Regions from separate parts of the Homo sapiens genome. Here region 1 is linked to region 2. Evidence: fine-mapped expression QTL. Tissue or cell type: blood mononuclear cells. Region 2 holds a variant in brackets; the other region holds the start of a gene. All regions are shown on one strand. Distances are from middle to middle.

What was found. PIP is the estimated chance that this variant, and not a neighbour inherited with it, causes the effect.
Region 1: it holds the start of SLC1A3, and the variant in region 2 is fine-mapped to the expression of SLC1A3 in blood mononuclear cells (TOPMed, PIP 0.90).

The regions. Positions count from the first base shown.
Region 1 is chr5:36,601,735-36,609,877 of GRCh38, forward strand. SLC1A3 (solute carrier family 1 member 3) reads left to right here and starts at 4,872. Exons shown (of 10, transcript NM_004172.5): 1 at 4,872-5,001; 2 at 6,595-6,870. The coding sequence starts at 6,690. RefSeq lists an enhancer at 4,979-5,078.
Region 2 is chr5:36,682,339-36,690,502 of GRCh38, forward strand. SLC1A3 (solute carrier family 1 member 3) reads left to right here. Exons shown (of 10, transcript NM_004172.5): 9 at 1,526-1,660; 10 at 3,727-5,996. The coding sequence ends at 3,931. The region is part of intron 1 of SLC1A3-AS1 (SLC1A3 antisense RNA 1); the gene reads right to left. Among named protein-coding and RNA genes, the nearest start is that of SLC1A3-AS1, 39 kb to the right of the region's middle. RefSeq lists an enhancer at 7,072-7,301 and a silencer at 7,757-7,956. The variant T/A (reference allele first, on the strand shown) is at 3,550.

The sequences.
Region 1 (8,143 bases), 81 kb before region 2:
GAGCAGCCACACTTGGATTTATTTTACATTGTAATGATTGAAGAAGGAACTCATTGGCTTTTTTTTTTCCTTTTAAGTTTGATGTTTACTGACTTCCTTTCTCCAAGTCTTAGAATTGGAAATGGACTGATGAACCCTCTTGTGTTTGTGACTGTGTTGCATCTGTTTATTGGTGCAGCAACTCTTTTCTGAGCACCTTCCGTTCTGGTTCCTAAGTATGCAGTAGTTATCCATACAGGCCCTGCCCTCAAAGACCCTGCAGTCTAGACAGGGAGAATTGCAGCACAAAGTGGTAATGACTCTGGAGATTTAAACCCAGGGGGCCTTGGGAGCACATAGGAAAGGCAACCAAGCCCGTTGGATTTGGGGAGTGGGAGGAGATTAGAGTTGACTCCCCAGAAGAAATAACAGATTGTAGGCCTTCCTTTTAATGTTCTTTCCTTTCTTTTCTATCTGTCTTTAAAAAAACTCCTGGGGGCTTCTTTTGGGAAAAGATGAGAAATCAACATGAAGAACTCTTGTCTTAGCGCTGACTATGATCCCCAGCATATTACTCAATCCCTACTGATCTCCAACATCTGGGTCTACAGGACCAGTAATAATAGAGTAGAATAGACCTCAAAGTATTATCACGAAGATTAAATTAGATAATGTGTGTAGAAGTACTTAAAAAACTATAAAGCCCTGTAAACATGTCTGCTGAAGGCTTCAATTCCAATCAACCTACATAATCTTTTCCAGCTAAACGGATATTCTTGGTTCTACAAAGTCTTGACTCATGTTGAGCAACTGGGGAAAATGTCACTTTTCAATATAAATAATAATTGATAACAATAACATGTGTGAAGCCTTCATTAAAAAGCAGACCCTCTTTAGCTTTAGAATGGAGAAAACATGTTGTTTTTTAAGGCATCATTATGTCCACCTGTTGGATCACTTGTGAGAAAAATAACAGTTGGTGTAATTTCTTGCCACGTGGGAATCTATTTGGGGGGGTTCCTCTTGCTGGTCTTCACCTTTGTGTTGGTGTTCCCTAGGCTTCTGCCCTTGCTCAGTCCTCTTCTGAAACCCCATCAGAGGTCAAAACAGAAGAACTTGCTAGAGCCACATGCTGATAACTAACTTGAGTGAAGTGAGCAGGACAAGTGGGCTGGAGAGTGCACACTCCACCTACAGGAGGCAGCCTTGGCTCAGTGTCAGCCGACCCCTTCAAGGGCCTTGATATTCTCAAATGGTCAGTATTTTTCAGTGTGAATGTGAACTCACCTAGTTTGTAAATGCTCCTCCTGCCCCTTGACTTCCTAACCCAAGTCTTAGTCACTTCAAGGCTTTGCATTTTACCTAAAACGAAAATTACTTCCCTGCTTAAATCCTGTGGCTGGCTCCCCATTGACTAGGAGTGGAGTTCAAGTTGTAAATTCGGCCCCTACTGGCCTGTTCTCCAGCAGGAACCACTACTGGCTCCCTGCCATGCCACACGATGGCTGCTATGGGCAGGCACCTGCTAGAAACAGTGTACACAATGTGGATCCAGGCACAGCCCCTTCTCTTAAGTTGCTACCAGTCTTTTTGACATACTAACTGGTAAATAGGCCTCAGCACACAGCGATCTCATAACCTTCTGTTGGGCCCTGTCCTGGCCCACTGCTTAATAATTACGATGCGTTTATGGACTCCTTGAGGAAAGAAACTGGTATTTGGAACACAGTGGTTGCTCAATGTTTGTTGAAAGAATAAATGAATGTGATAAAGTTAATTTTAGTTCACCTCTCTGTAGTTGGATGTTTTTAGGTTTCATATGACTATAACTTTAAAATAAAACCTAGTTATTTAAAAATTCAACTAACCAGACTTCACCACAGGTTTTTTTGTTGTTCTGCTTTTTACATTCATATTTAAGAAGAAAAAAAAATCAAAACAAAATGGAAGACAACTACCACAAGTTCTTCTACACCTACTGCCTCTAACACATCCACTGTTACACTCTGGGGTTAAGTCAGGTCCTGTTCATTGTCTTAGCATTCTACAATTTCCAAATTCTAGGAGGAGAATTGACATTCATGATGATCCTAAAATGCAAGCTATTTAAACAAGGAATGATTTTAAAACCATCATTAAATTAAAAATCAACTTGGAAAATATTGAAAAAAGATTAAAAGGTTTTCTAATCCATTTTGTTGCTCAAAAAAAAATCCAATTAACCAAAATTTCCTAATTTTGAATGGTGAAGTTTGACTGGCCTGTACCATGCTAAGATCAGCACGTGCTTATTACCGTAATCTCTTGTTCTTCAAACCAATAAATGCTCCCTTTAAGGACAGGTTGGATTTGGTTATTTCTTGTTATACTGACATTTTTTCCCAAAGAAAGAATTTACTGATAACATACTTCATCACACAATGTTCACAGAAAGATCTTGACAGATTTTTTCAGCAGGAACAGCATTTGCTGCTGGTGTTTGTGTTTTTTTCATTTGATAATACTAACATTAATATGATCCCCCAGCTTCTGTGTCTCCCACCCTGAGTAGCTTTAAATGAAATACAGCATACAGAGACTTGTTCATAATTTCTTGATCTTTCATTTATTTAGTGTTTCTAGAAGGAAAAAAAAAGATGTTTTAAAGCTCAAGGGACTTAACTATAAAGTAGAGGGGAAAAGGTAGAAATACGCGTTGAGGAAACCCAGGAGGCCCCCAGGCATGACTTTTGCTATAGCTTTCCAGAAAGAGAAAGTGGTGCTTAAAGAAGTAATTCCCAATGTTTCCCTCCAGACTAAAATTGGATGAACTCTGAACTGAGACTCTTTGCATCTCATTTTCTCATTAGGTTTTATTACAGCCAACAAAACTTTCAGTGGTGAATTACTTCCCTTCTCAACAGAATACCAGACTCCCATAATGTCTACACAAACTGAAATAATGAAATGGTTTTTAACCAAGCTTTAGGGATTAGAGAGGAAAAAAAAAGTGAAAAAGAAAGGGCACCAGGGTCTTCCCATCTCTATGCTAACCAAAGTGTGGTTTTCCAGCCCTTTTTCTTGCCTATTAACAAAAATAAAAACAAAAAATGGAAATGCCACTGGGCTTGAAACCCCATTTAAAATCAGATTTCTCTTTCGAGTTCCCTTGCAATACAAGTCAAAGTCATTTCCACCAAAAAAAAAAAGCGGTGGGGGGGGGGGGTGTGCAAATTAATCCTAAACTCATGGCTCAGATAGGACCTGGTATAGTAAATAAATGCTTTTAAAAGTAGTCATGGCATTGAGAAATGGCTCCATGCACCTAAACCAGAGGCACCAATGTAAAAACTAGTAATTGTGTTTTAACACAAAAGATTGAAAAGCGTTTTGTTTCACATCCTAATATTATTCCACCCACTTAAAAAGAGTTACTTAATATTGACTCTGTATTAGGTATAAGACAAGTTCTTGCCCTCAAAGAACTTATAATTTAGTTGAGAAACCAAAACTTAACATGAGCTTAAAAAGAAGGATGCAGTACAAAACATGGTATAATTAAGTGCTAAACAATGTAGTATAGATGCTCAGTGACCTAGGAGATCAGAGGAAGGGAAGGGTCACTGAGGGCTGGGAATGTCAAAAGCATGTACTTTCAGTAAGTTCTTAAAATGATAGCATGTTAGAAAGCTGTTATAATTGCTGCTGATTTGTAATTTTAAAGCATTGACATGATTCACCATTGCTTTCCAACCAGTAGCTGTTTAAAAGGACATACAGTTGAGGGTGAAAGGAGATATTTCTTTATGATCTCCAGAGATTTGTATTGAGGGGAAAAAAGACATACTTTCTTGTTGAATAATAGACCAAGAATTGAGCATATTTTGCATGGGGAATATTAAATTCAGTGAACAAGAATCCAAACCTCAGGCTGTGATTCTGGTATAAATTTTTGTTTCTAATGAACCATTTTCTTCCTTCTAAAGAAGATTTAAGTTTTGGGAATAAGTCACCTCAAAAAAATTTTTTTTTATTTTCTAATATCTATTTTCACAATTTATTTTTCTTTTAAGAAAAGTGGACTAGAAGCTCAAGTTACCTTCTCAAGGCAATGAGAATTTTTTAGCTCTAAAAAAGTTGTGTGTGGTAGGGAGAACATTTAGCATCCTTTAAAATGGAGACATCTGAACAGCAACCTATCTTTTGAATCACCAAATCTCAAGTGTACTTTGCACTCTTGGTCTTAAAATGCTTTTCATTTTCTAGTTTGGCAAAAATTCCAGTCTCTTTACATTTGCTACCTTTTCCGTCTTTGCAACACAGGCAGTGTGAGCTAAATTAGGTTTGTTAAAATGAAGTTTTGAAGTTTCAACTGCTGAAATAGAGGCATGTCCCTAACTTTAGACAAATTTAGAGAATCGTAGTAAGCATTATTTTTTTTCTACATACTTGTCTGCATTCAGTGTCTTCCCAAGAAACGTCAGTTAATTCCCCGATTCGAAAAAGGAACTTTCTCGTAACAGTTGTACAACCAGGCTAAAGAGCACACCCTCGTCTTCCCTGAAAGGGAGGAAACATGCAATAATGTGAGGTAATTAAATTTAGCCTTAGAAAAGTCTTTGAAACGTTCTAATCAAGACTTTCAGCTTTCCGATTGTGTGCGCTTTATTTTTCAATTCTTCCTAGTCCCGGTTTTGCATTTCTAATGACAGTGAACTGACAAAGCGTGAAAGTGGTCTAAGGAGCAAAACAAAGCCAGCAAGCCTGCTTCTGGTGTGCCAAGATTAATCAATATTCCAGAAACCTCGGGGTTTCCCCCTCCTCCCTGTGCGGTTTCCATTCCCCACTCCTCCTTTCCCGGGCACAGACTCCTCCCCTTTTCTTAAGTTGCCCTGATAGTAACTTGCAGTTTCAGAGCACATGCACACTGTCAGGGCTAGCCTGCCTGCTTACGCGCGCTGCGGATTGTTGCTCCGTTGTACCTGCTGGGGAATTCACCTCGTTACTGCTTGATATCTTCCACCCCTTACAAAATCAGAAAAGGTAAGTGTCACATTCTGTGTTCCTGCTGGGTTTAATTTCTCCTTTCACTTCTCTGCCGATGTATTTTGCCTTCCAAGCAGAGGAGTAGCCTGAATCAAGGCTAGCCATTTTGGTAGATAAAGTCCTTGTTAGTCATCTCACGTCGTGAGAGTGTGGTGTCTGTTTATGCCGGGTCCGCTGTTAATTCGGAGTTGAGTCATTCGGGGTGGATTGGGGGCAGATTGTGGCGCGAGATCTAGAAAAGGATCAAGGTTGAGCGGATCTGCTTAAAAGTGACTGGTAAGAGGAATCAGAGCTATTAGTTTAAAAAAAAAAAAAATCTGGTCTCTCCTATTTCCCGGTCTTCACTTCTCCCTAAGCATTTAATCCAGTGTGAAGTCTTAAACAAATTAGAAGTCTTAGTATCACTGACCCCAACTTGCAATTTTATTTAAAAGGCAAACTGTTAAGACAAGTCTTTTTTTTTCCTGCACTGGGATTGCGAGAAGTCATTTGCGAGGAGTCCTTTGGTTTCCAGTTACCTCCCCCACAGGCGCACACGCTGGCTGCTTGCGTTGGCAGCGACACACATCCATGGTACGGCTGGTTTTCACTCGGATTGATTATGGGAAGGGCTATGGATTAGAGCTCCTGTAAAGCACCAGGAGGAATCCCTTGATTTTTCAGAACAGCTGATTTCCACCAGGAAAGAGATTTACTGAAATGTAGTTAAATAGCGTGAGTGCTTTAAAGAAACCAGAAACCACAAGCTGTAATGTTTGGAATGAAAATTGGTTTCATCTCATCTGTTCTAGAAATCCTAAATTTTAAAACGCTAAAAAGTCAGCGATAGTTTCCTCGGAAGATTCCAGCATGTGTGTCACAAAGAAAAACACTACTTCATACTTCTACTTGTGATAAACGAAGCTGAATTGTGATTTCAGATGATTTATAGATGTGCCCAGAGCACTTTGCTTATTTCATGGAAAAAAAATGAAAAAATTACCCTGTAAAATAGTCACATGTATTTCCCATGTACTGTGGGCACTTGTGTTCTTTTTATGACCATATTTACTAGTAGATATTATTATATTTTTTTCTTAATGAAGAAAATAGCTGGTTACTTTACTGCATGTAACAGAGACAACTCCCACCTATCAGTATCTTAATTATTTTTATTGACCTGGTTATGCTTTCAACCATGTATACAGCATAATTTGTCAAGTAATGATTGAATACTTTCTGTGCATTCAGTTCAATTGGACATTTACTGATTGTGTACGTTGTGCAAGGCATCAGCTGGGTTCTGCGGGGGAGGGTGGGAATAGGGGTTCTCAGTCAGATCTAGCTCTGAAGAACCCTTTTATAGCCTCATTGGAAGGGGAAGGACGGATTTTTAAAAAGAAAATAGAATATATTCCGAATTTATGCACATTTCTCACACGTGGTCCACTAAAATATGCACACTGCAACCTTGAGGTCTGGTATTGTGGCTCTCCAGTCCTTGATTCCTGCTGAGATTATGCAATTTGCCAAGAGCTTGCCTGGTGTGGAGCAGCACTGATTTCTCACCCCTGGAGGCTATAACTCATGTCTCTTTTTCTCCCATTCTAGTTGTGTTTTCTAATACCAAAGAGGAGGTTTGGCTTTCTGTGGGTGATTCCCAGACACTGAAGTGCAAAGAAGAGACCCTCCTAGAAAAGTAAAATATGACTAAAAGCAATGGAGAAGAGCCCAAGATGGGGGGCAGGATGGAGAGATTCCAGCAGGGAGTCCGTAAACGCACACTTTTGGCCAAGAAGAAAGTGCAGAACATTACAAAGGAGGATGTTAAAAGTTACCTGTTTCGGAATGCTTTTGTGCTGCTCACAGTCACCGCTGTCATTGTGGGTGAGTCATTTGATTAAAAACAAAAAAACCTGTATCTTGTTTCTCTGGGGCATCTGGCTGCCCGGGGAATATTATCAGATGAACTAGTTGTAGGTATCAAAATGGTAGCCTAGGCTTTCCTCTGAACTTGATGATTTTTCTCCATAAAAATGACTGTTTTGGCTTGTTTGGAGCAATATATAGTAAACACATCATTAGGCATCATTAGGCATTATGCAAATCAATTGTGTGAGGAAGAAAAATAAATAAAATATTTTCCCATTTCATGTAAGGATAAGGAAGTGATCATTTAATCATTAGGCATGACAAAGCAAGCATGCTAGATTTGGCCAAAATGTAATTATATACAATGTCAGTTGCACTTAAAACTAATTTATACAATTAGTACACCTAAAATGACATGTTGGTTCCAAATAGTAATTATATTCTAACTGGTGCTGACTTGAAGCTGAGTATCAACGCTTAGGCACAGAGACCGAATATTTTATGTGTTTGCACTCTCTCACCCAGCAACTGGGAAAGGTAGATTGGGGAAAATGTTAACACAGATCTCTTTCATTCATTGCTTTGCAGAGCCTGCCATAACCAGCTATACCTTTTTTTGAATCATTTCCATCTCTTACTAATTTAGCAGGGTTGACAGCAATCTGTACTAATAAAATATTATTGTTTTGTTTTGTTTATTGATCTTAAAAGTTATAGTTTATTACTTATGGGTGGCATTGATCCTACTTTAAAATATAGCTGAAAAAACCTACTTATTTGGAATTTTTGACCAAACCAATACAGAAATCCTTAGATTGACAAACATATACGCCAATGCCAGGTTGTAAAAATATTCCAACTTAACCTACCAATTTGCCACCAAAAAAGAGGCATTCAGTACCGTTTTAATCTCTACTTTGGAGTTTGCCAAGATTTCCATCAACTTTAAAGAGGTAATGATTTAATAAAGATTAAGAAAATTCTGTAGTGTGTAAATATAACTTTTTTCAAGAAAATTGAATTCTTAAATTGTAGACAAATGAAGTATAGCAGGAGAGTTTGTCACAAGATTTTAGATACATCCCATTTTAACATCATTGTCTTCCATTAGTAATCACTGGTGATTAATGATGGTTCAATTAATTTAGAGATATTCAAAGAGAACATGTCCTAACTGACCCAGAGAAGTAATGGCTTTCCACAGTAGGTTTCCAGGCTTGAATATATTCCTGGGTGAAATATTTCAGTCCCACATCATTGTCCTGGAAGTCAATGCAAAATACAGTCT
Region 2 (8,164 bases):
TTGTAGTAGGATGCATCGGAGTAAAAAGGAAAAGGCTGATCAGGGCCAGAGGTCAATGACTGACCTGGGGGTTCTGGGAACCTCAGGCCCAAAGTAGTTATAATGGGACTTAGGAGATCATTATCTCAGCTCACCTGTAACCTATACTTTGGCATATTGATTGAAAGGCTCTGGGTTATTAAAAAAAAAAGGTGACAGAGTTAAAAATAACAGTAACAGTGACAAGCAAGATAGAAATATATTTCTCTTTCATGCAGCACAGCTCTGCTCCACAAAGCCTTCAAGGCTGATTGATAGGTGCTCTGTGGTATAAGAGACTAAGTCTCTAGGGTATTATCATTATCCAGGTGGTCCGGGATGACTCACCACCCCCAGATTTTAGTCAGTCGGAAGTGGGGAGATGGTATACCCTGCAAGTTGCTCAGTACCTCCATGCATGTCTGACTGGCCAGAACTTAATCTAAGCTTCAAGGGAGGTTGGGAAGTGTAGTCTTCATTCTGGGGAGCCATATACCAGCTAAAAGTCCCAGTATCTTAGAAGGGGACCAGTATGGGGACCATGAATACTTTCTGTGACAGACTTAATACTTTATTAATACCACTTATAACCAGATAATACTTTACTATTTATAAAACATTTGCTTTGCAAGCCAGGTCTACACTGCCTTCATAAAAAGTATTTCTAATACTATAAAACTTTGTTCATAAATCATTTTGCTTTTGAATTAACTAAGCAAACCAAACTAAGAAACCAAATTTGATTCTTTTGACAACATTAATCATGAATGTTCAGTAACTTTACAACCCTCCACTTGGATAGGGGAATTACTAGAAACAAATTATTATTGTAACTCTACAGCATTTTAGACTTTGCCTTACAAAATACTTTCAGGGATGTTTAAAAGTGTATAGCTGCCAGTTTATTTAAAAACGACTAGAATAATAGGTCCAACTTCACAAGGGTCATTGTACGAGGACCAAATTAGATAAACCATGCTTAGTATATCAGAAGACACATAGTAAGCACATGATAAATATTAGTTAGCATGATGATTAGTTCAATTTTTTTTTTTTTAATCTCATTTACGGGCCAGGCATGATGGCTCATGCCGGTAATCCCAGCACTTTGGGAGGCCAAGGTGGGTGGATCACTTGAGGTCAAGAGTTCGAGACTAACCTGGCTAACATGGTGAAATCCTGCTCTACTAAAAACACGAATATTAGTCGAGTGTGGGGGCATGAAGCTGTATTCCCAGCTACTCAGGGGACTGAGGCACGAGAATCACTTGAACCCAGGAGGAAGAGGTTTCAGTGAGCCTAGTTTGCACCACTGCACTCCAGCCTGGGCAACAGAGTGAGATACTGTTTCAAAAAAAAAAAAAATCTCATTTACGTTTTTTCTGAAGCGCGTCCTCTTGTGTTACATGGCAAGTCAGGCATCGGCACCGTGCGTATTTTGCAGCGTATATGCTCTACGTGGGGAGCTTTGTAAAAGTGTTTTCTGTTCTGGTACTTCTGTTAACAGCATCACAGCCACAGCTGCCAGTATTGGGGCAGCTGGAATTCCTCAGGCGGGCCTGGTCACTATGGTCATTGTGCTGACATCTGTCGGCCTGCCCACTGACGACATCACGCTCATCATCGCGGTGGACTGGTTCCTGTGAGTATGCTTGGCCTGCATTCCAGCTCACTGTCACAGGGTCCCCCTCTGTCACTCTAGGGCACCAGGCAGCCTGGCACATCTACAGAAAGAACTCTGAGGAGAGGGGCCTCTCGGCCCATAGTTAAATTGTCCTTATTGTCTGACCCCTGGTCCTTATCTGGAGACCGAGCCCCAGATGCCATGTGCACTCACTCCCCTGTCAGCCTAAGGGGCACATCTGGCTGCCACACATCTCACTCCATAAAGCCATTCAGGAATTGGGAAACCCGCTGTCTGCAAAGGCAACATAAATCAGCAAGGCTGTTTCTGAGTTGCACAACATGACACCACAGCAGCTGGAACAAAGCTGCAGGCCCCACATGCCAGCTTAGGCCCTGCCTCTGTGTGCTTCCCATTCCAGTGGGAATGATTTTCCCATCCTAGCCCAATAGGGTGAGGCTGAGCTATGCCGACACTGGGAAGAGAGCTAGTGTCATTAAGTGGAATTGAGTTTCGGATCTAGGGAAAGTTACAAGAAATGTGCCCTCCACATTCTCAAACTCTAACCTCTACAGGCCCATCCCTTCGCCCCCTTCCCTCGCTCTTCCAGCTGGCATTCTCTGTGCCTTTTCTCTTAAAAATTTCCTTCCACTTTTGAAAATCTTTCCCCAGGATGCCCAAAGCAAAGCCTAGAACAGAGTACGTGTTGGAGTTAACACAACATATGTTCACTAGAACTGCAACATGAAAAGAGCTTGACAGTGTGCGTGAAACCCCAGACTGGGCGAGAGGATTCACTCCCCAGTTACTTGGACCTGTGTTTGTGTCCTGACCTTGTGTGAGACCGGGCAGATTACCCAACCACCCTAGTTTCTACCTCTGTAAAATGAGGGTGCCCGTGTCCTCTACCTCCTAGGGGTACTGCAAGATTCAGTGCAATGATGCCTAGAAAGCATGCAGCCTACTGTCTGGCCCACAGTCAGCATCAGTTAACATGAGCACTCTCATATAAAGCTACAGTTCTCCACAGTCTTTGATCTTTACACTTCAAAATTATTGAGAACTGAAACAGCATTTGATCTATATGGGTTGTATCTATTCATATTTATCATATTAGACACACTTATAAATTTCCACTTGTTAATTTATTACATGTTTTATTTAAAGGTGATAATAATTCATAAAATAAAATAATGGAATGAATTTATTATCATCTTTAAACAAAAAGGTTATATATGCTAACATAAATAGCATTTTTTTGCAAAAAACAACCATTTCGACCCCAAAATTTATTTTATTTATTTACTTGTTTTGAGATGGAGTTCCATTCCTGTTGCCCAGGCTAGAGTGCAATGGCACAGTCTTGGCTCACTGCAACCTCCGCCTCCTGGGTTCAAGTGATTCTCCTGCCTCAGCCTCCTGAGTAGCTGGGATTAGAGGCGCCCGCCACCACGCCTGGCTAATTTTTGTATTTTTAGTAGAGACGGGTTTCACCATGTTGGCCAGGCTGGTCTCGAACTCCTGACCTCAGGTGAACCACCTGCCTTGGCCTCCCAAAGTGCTGAGATTACAGGTGTGAGCCACGGTGCCCGGCCTCGACCCCAATATTTAGTGAAAAGAATGGTACTATTTTATGTTTTGCAAGTTTTCTTAATGTCTGGCTTAATACAAGACAGTTGGAGTTTCCTGTTTCTGCAGTTTCACAACTGCTTCAGTGAGTTGTGACATCACACATCATGTAGTCTTTGCAAAACTCCACTATACATTCATGAGAAAATGAGACTGAGAGGGACAAATGACATCTTAGTATTATTATGAGAATGGCTTAAAGAGAAGGCTCGTTCCCCACTGTTGGGACTCTCACTTCAGTCAAACTAATAACTGAACATTCATCATCTATATGGCCT[T/A]ATAACCTTTAATAGCTACTATTATGAATATTATGTGTCTATTACGTAATCTTGCAGTTGGTAGATACGGCGAACTGAATGTTAAGAGGTGCTTCGCTGGCCAGTTCCTAACGTAAGTTGAAAACTTGTGATGCTCACGGGAGCCTCGTTTTTCCCTCCTCCCCACCCTGCCTGCAGGGATCGCCTCCGGACCACCACCAACGTACTGGGAGACTCCCTGGGAGCTGGGATTGTGGAGCACTTGTCACGACATGAACTGAAGAACAGAGATGTTGAAATGGGTAACTCAGTGATTGAAGAGAATGAAATGAAGAAACCATATCAACTGATTGCACAGGACAATGAAACTGAGAAACCCATCGACAGTGAAACCAAGATGTAGACTAACATAAAGAAACACTTTCTTGAGCACCAGGTGTTAAAAACCATTATAAAATCTTTCCATCTCATTACAGCTCATTCGCTCCAGCAAGCCCGTCATCTTCCCTTTCCTCCCTTCTGATAAGACTGGAAAATAGTCCTCCAAAACACAAGGGAGGATTTTGGGTGGCCAAAGTGTACAATTTTCATCCCACAATTGAAATTTTTAAATCATTTCATGTTAGTCTTACCGAATAAGGTACCAAGATCACAAATAGTGTTGATCAGATCTTACAAGTTTATGTGGCACACAATCCTATAAATGTGATTTTTTTATATAAGTTAAAGAGACAAATAGTAGGCTAAAAACATTTTAAAATCAACTTTTGAAATTTAAAAATCTTTCAGAATACAATTCAGTTTTAGTTTCAAAATGTTAACAACTTGAATTACAACCGGTTATCAGTTGGACAGTAAGATTTTATCCCTTTCTCTTCTGACTGGTATACCTATTTCATTAGTAGCTAGGTGCACATATACATCTAGCACAGCTGTGAGGACAGACAGAAGGCAAAGTTTCCATGTGGCCTTGAGCAAGTCCCATCTCACCTCTAGGCCTCAGTGTCCTCATCTATAAAATGAGGGACTTCCCTAGAAGTCTTCATGGTCTCTTCCAGCCCAGACATCCTGTGATGTCATGAAAGCACCTGCCCTCTGTTTCCCCTCAGAACACCCTGTACCATCCATGGAGCACGAGGCCTTCAGAAAAGACACTTCAATGGGAGTGAACATTTCTAACTAAGGACAGGATGGCTGTGTGTGGTGGTCACCAGGTCCTGTGAGCAAAGTGCAGGTTATGCAAGTCGCCAGGCAGGAGGCCATTCCAGGAGTGGGATTATTCATCAAACTCTTTGCCCAGTTCATCCCAATGGGGGAAGTATTCCCTTCTTTCCTACTCTGGGAAGAATGTCTCCTGCCACTCCTCAACTGATGATAGACTTCGAAAACAGATGAGAAGACTAGCAGCTAGCAAGGGTGCTTGTGGTCACACTGTGGAACACTAAAGAGCTAGGAAAGAGTTGAGCACAGGCAACATTACAAACAAAGGATTTGAAAACACCAAGAGTACAGGTCTTCTTTAAGGAAGAATAAAAAAGAAGAGGTTCATTTTTCTGGCTTTTTTTTTCACCTGAAACACTTTTTCTCGAGTCCAAAATCATTCCCCCCGTGAAGTCTGCTTACCAAAACATAAGACGACTTATATATTTGAAAGAAGTCAAATGAATGAGCTCTCTAATAGAAGTCCATGAGTTGAGTGGGTATTTCTTATTTGAAAGTGTTTTTCTTTAATCAAAAGTCCTTAGAATGAGGGAAACAAAATATTTATTTGTTTTGGAATCCCACTTATCAAATCATTCAAAACTTTCAGCTGGAGTGGGGTTTGCTTTTGTTTTGTTTGTGTCCATAAGAGAAATGGTAGAAGATGAATCAGTATGAAGACACTGTCAATGAGGTTATGAGAAAAAAACAGCAGGGGCATTAGTTTCAGGCAAGGCAGCTCCCAGGTTTAGAGATTAATTTTTACCCCCTAAGGAATATCCAGTCAAAGACGCTGAGTGGGAGCTGTCAGGCAGTAGCAGCTGTGTTTGAGTTTCTGGCTGAAAATGGTGAAGAATGGACTTAATTATGCTAACAAACTGAAAAATCTAGACATAGATCCTCTGATATACAATTAGAGATATTTTTATATAGACCCCAAGCATTCTGTGCATAAAAGTTAACATTAGGCTGTGGTGCAGTAACCATTTAATGTCGAGGCTCTATTTCGGAAATACACTACAAATGTTAAAGTACGTGGCTGTCCTCTTAAGACACTAGTAGAGCAAAGACTTAATCATATCAACTTAATTCTGTTACACAATATGTGTTTTTTAATATACTAACCATTTCTTATGGAAAGGTCCTGTGGGGAGCCCATCCTCTCGCCAAGCCATCACAGGCTCTGCATACACATGCACTCAGTGTGGACTGGGAAGCATTACTTTGTAGATGTATTTTCAATAAAGAAAAAAATAGTTTTACATTAACATCTTTGCACGTTGTTGTTATTCTTCTCCTCAAAGAAAAATACATTTTCCATTCATGGAAATATTACAATAAGCTCAGGGCAGTCTCTGGAAGGATCCCATGCAGCAAGGTAAAATCTTGGCAGAGCCAGCCACAAGAAAATAAGTAAGGACATGCTCTCCTGCTCAACTCCAAGAACTGGAGCTGGAAACAGGAGGAGGTGAGCGGAGCACTTTGCTGTAGCAGGCCATACTTCCTTGTCCATGTCAGATTCAAATTTCTCAGATGAATTGAATCATTTCCATGTCGGGATTAGAAAAGTGTGATACCACCATGGGCCCTTCCGAAAAAGTAACTTCCTGTCTGACCTCCAAATTAGGTAGATTTATCTCTGTGATTATTACCACCATTTGTGAAAAGAGCTAACTAAGATCTCAAGGGATTTCCAGAAACAGCCATTGTGCTGGTGCTCTATTCATTAAGAACAGCTTACGGATGACTACTTTTCATCATGCTTTTTAGTAAAGAATTCGCAGGCAATATCATGAAATCTCCAGATTGAAGTAGTGTCTGGAGCCTATAATCTGACCCTCTCTACCAGCAGGTGGCAGCCACCTAGAGGAAAGGCTCTTAAGTTGGATCCATGGACCCCTAGGTCATCCACATGAGAGTTCAATAGGTTCATCGCCCTTGAAGTTGTGGGGAAAGTTTTGTGCATTTGCCTTTTTCTGGGGGTAAAATTCTTAATTTCAATCGGTTTCTCTAACAGATCTTACGACTAAAAAAAAAAAAAAATTTACAAATCGCTATGTTTGAACCATACACCCTAACTTTTGTGAAGGCATATGTGGTATTTACATGACCAGTTTGGGAAAAGAAAGGCTGCTCACAAACTGAGGGAACCAAGCCTGGCCACCCTGAGCAGATCAATATTTGCCCCCTGTGAAACGTTCTGGGAAGTGCCGCATAAAATCAATCCACTGCTAGGAAGTGCTCCCTTCTGCCGGGACCATTTTCTTCCCTTCTGCAGCCCACGCTGGGTTTTGGCCACCTCCACAATGCAGACATAAGAAGCAGGTCATCTGCCTGTGGGAGGTCTGTGGAAAGCCCCTTATGGTTAAGGGAAGTGCCTCTCAGCCAGAGTATGACAAAGAGGGTGGAGAAGCAGGCCTTAGATCCCAACATGTGGTAGTCACACATGTGCTCACAAATGGAACTATGAAAAATATGCAGGTTCACAGCTTTTTTTTTTTTTTTTAAGATACAGGGTCTCACTCTGTGATTATGGCTCACTGCAGCCTCGAACTCCTGGGCTCAAGCGATCCTCAGCCTCCCGAGTATCTAGGACCATAGGCTCACACCACCACGCCCAGGCTAATTTTTATTTTTATTTTTTGTAGAGACAGGATCTCGCTATGTTGCTCAGGCTGGTCTCAAACTCCTGGCCTCAAGCCATCCTTCTGCCTCAGCCTCCCAAAGTGCTGGGATTACAGGAGTGAGCCGCTGCACCCAGCCTCTGGCTGACATTTTTTAAAATGTTTCTTATAAGTTATTACATTTAACAAAATATTTAAATCCTACCCTCAGAAGTTAGGAGTCTATGTCCTCCTGTATCCACATTCATCCTGGTACCACCACTGTCCCTTCCCACCCAAGCAAAATTCTCCTTTTCAAGAGAAAAAATCTCACTTTACCTCACTATACCTATAAGTAAAGGCATAGAAAAAAAAGTAAAATCCTTGACTCATCTACACAGTGTTGAAAACAGAAGTGTGAGTTCTGTTAGCTGAACGGGCCTGGAGGAAGCGTGGCGGGAAGGCTGGATCCCCGCCGCAGGGGCTGCGGGGCTGTGGCTGCCTGCGGGCTGGGCAGGGCCGGGCGCACGCCCTCCTTCCGGGTGGCCGCGGGCCCCGACCCCAGGCTGCCGTCAGTCGAGCGGCCTCCGCAGCGGCCGCGCTTCCCCTTCTCCCACCCGGGTGGTCCCAGAACTGGAGCAACAATGGCCGGCTCTGTGTGGCCGCGTCCTGGGGCCAAAGCAGTCGGGACGTGTCACGCCGAGGGAGGGCTCCGAATGAATACGCTGACAATAAGAAGGAAGGGAGAGCGAGGGAGGTGATGGGCAGCGTCCTAGAGGGAAAGCGGGAGATGAGAAATCTACGAGATCCGCGAGGCGGCGTCCGGGGAGCGA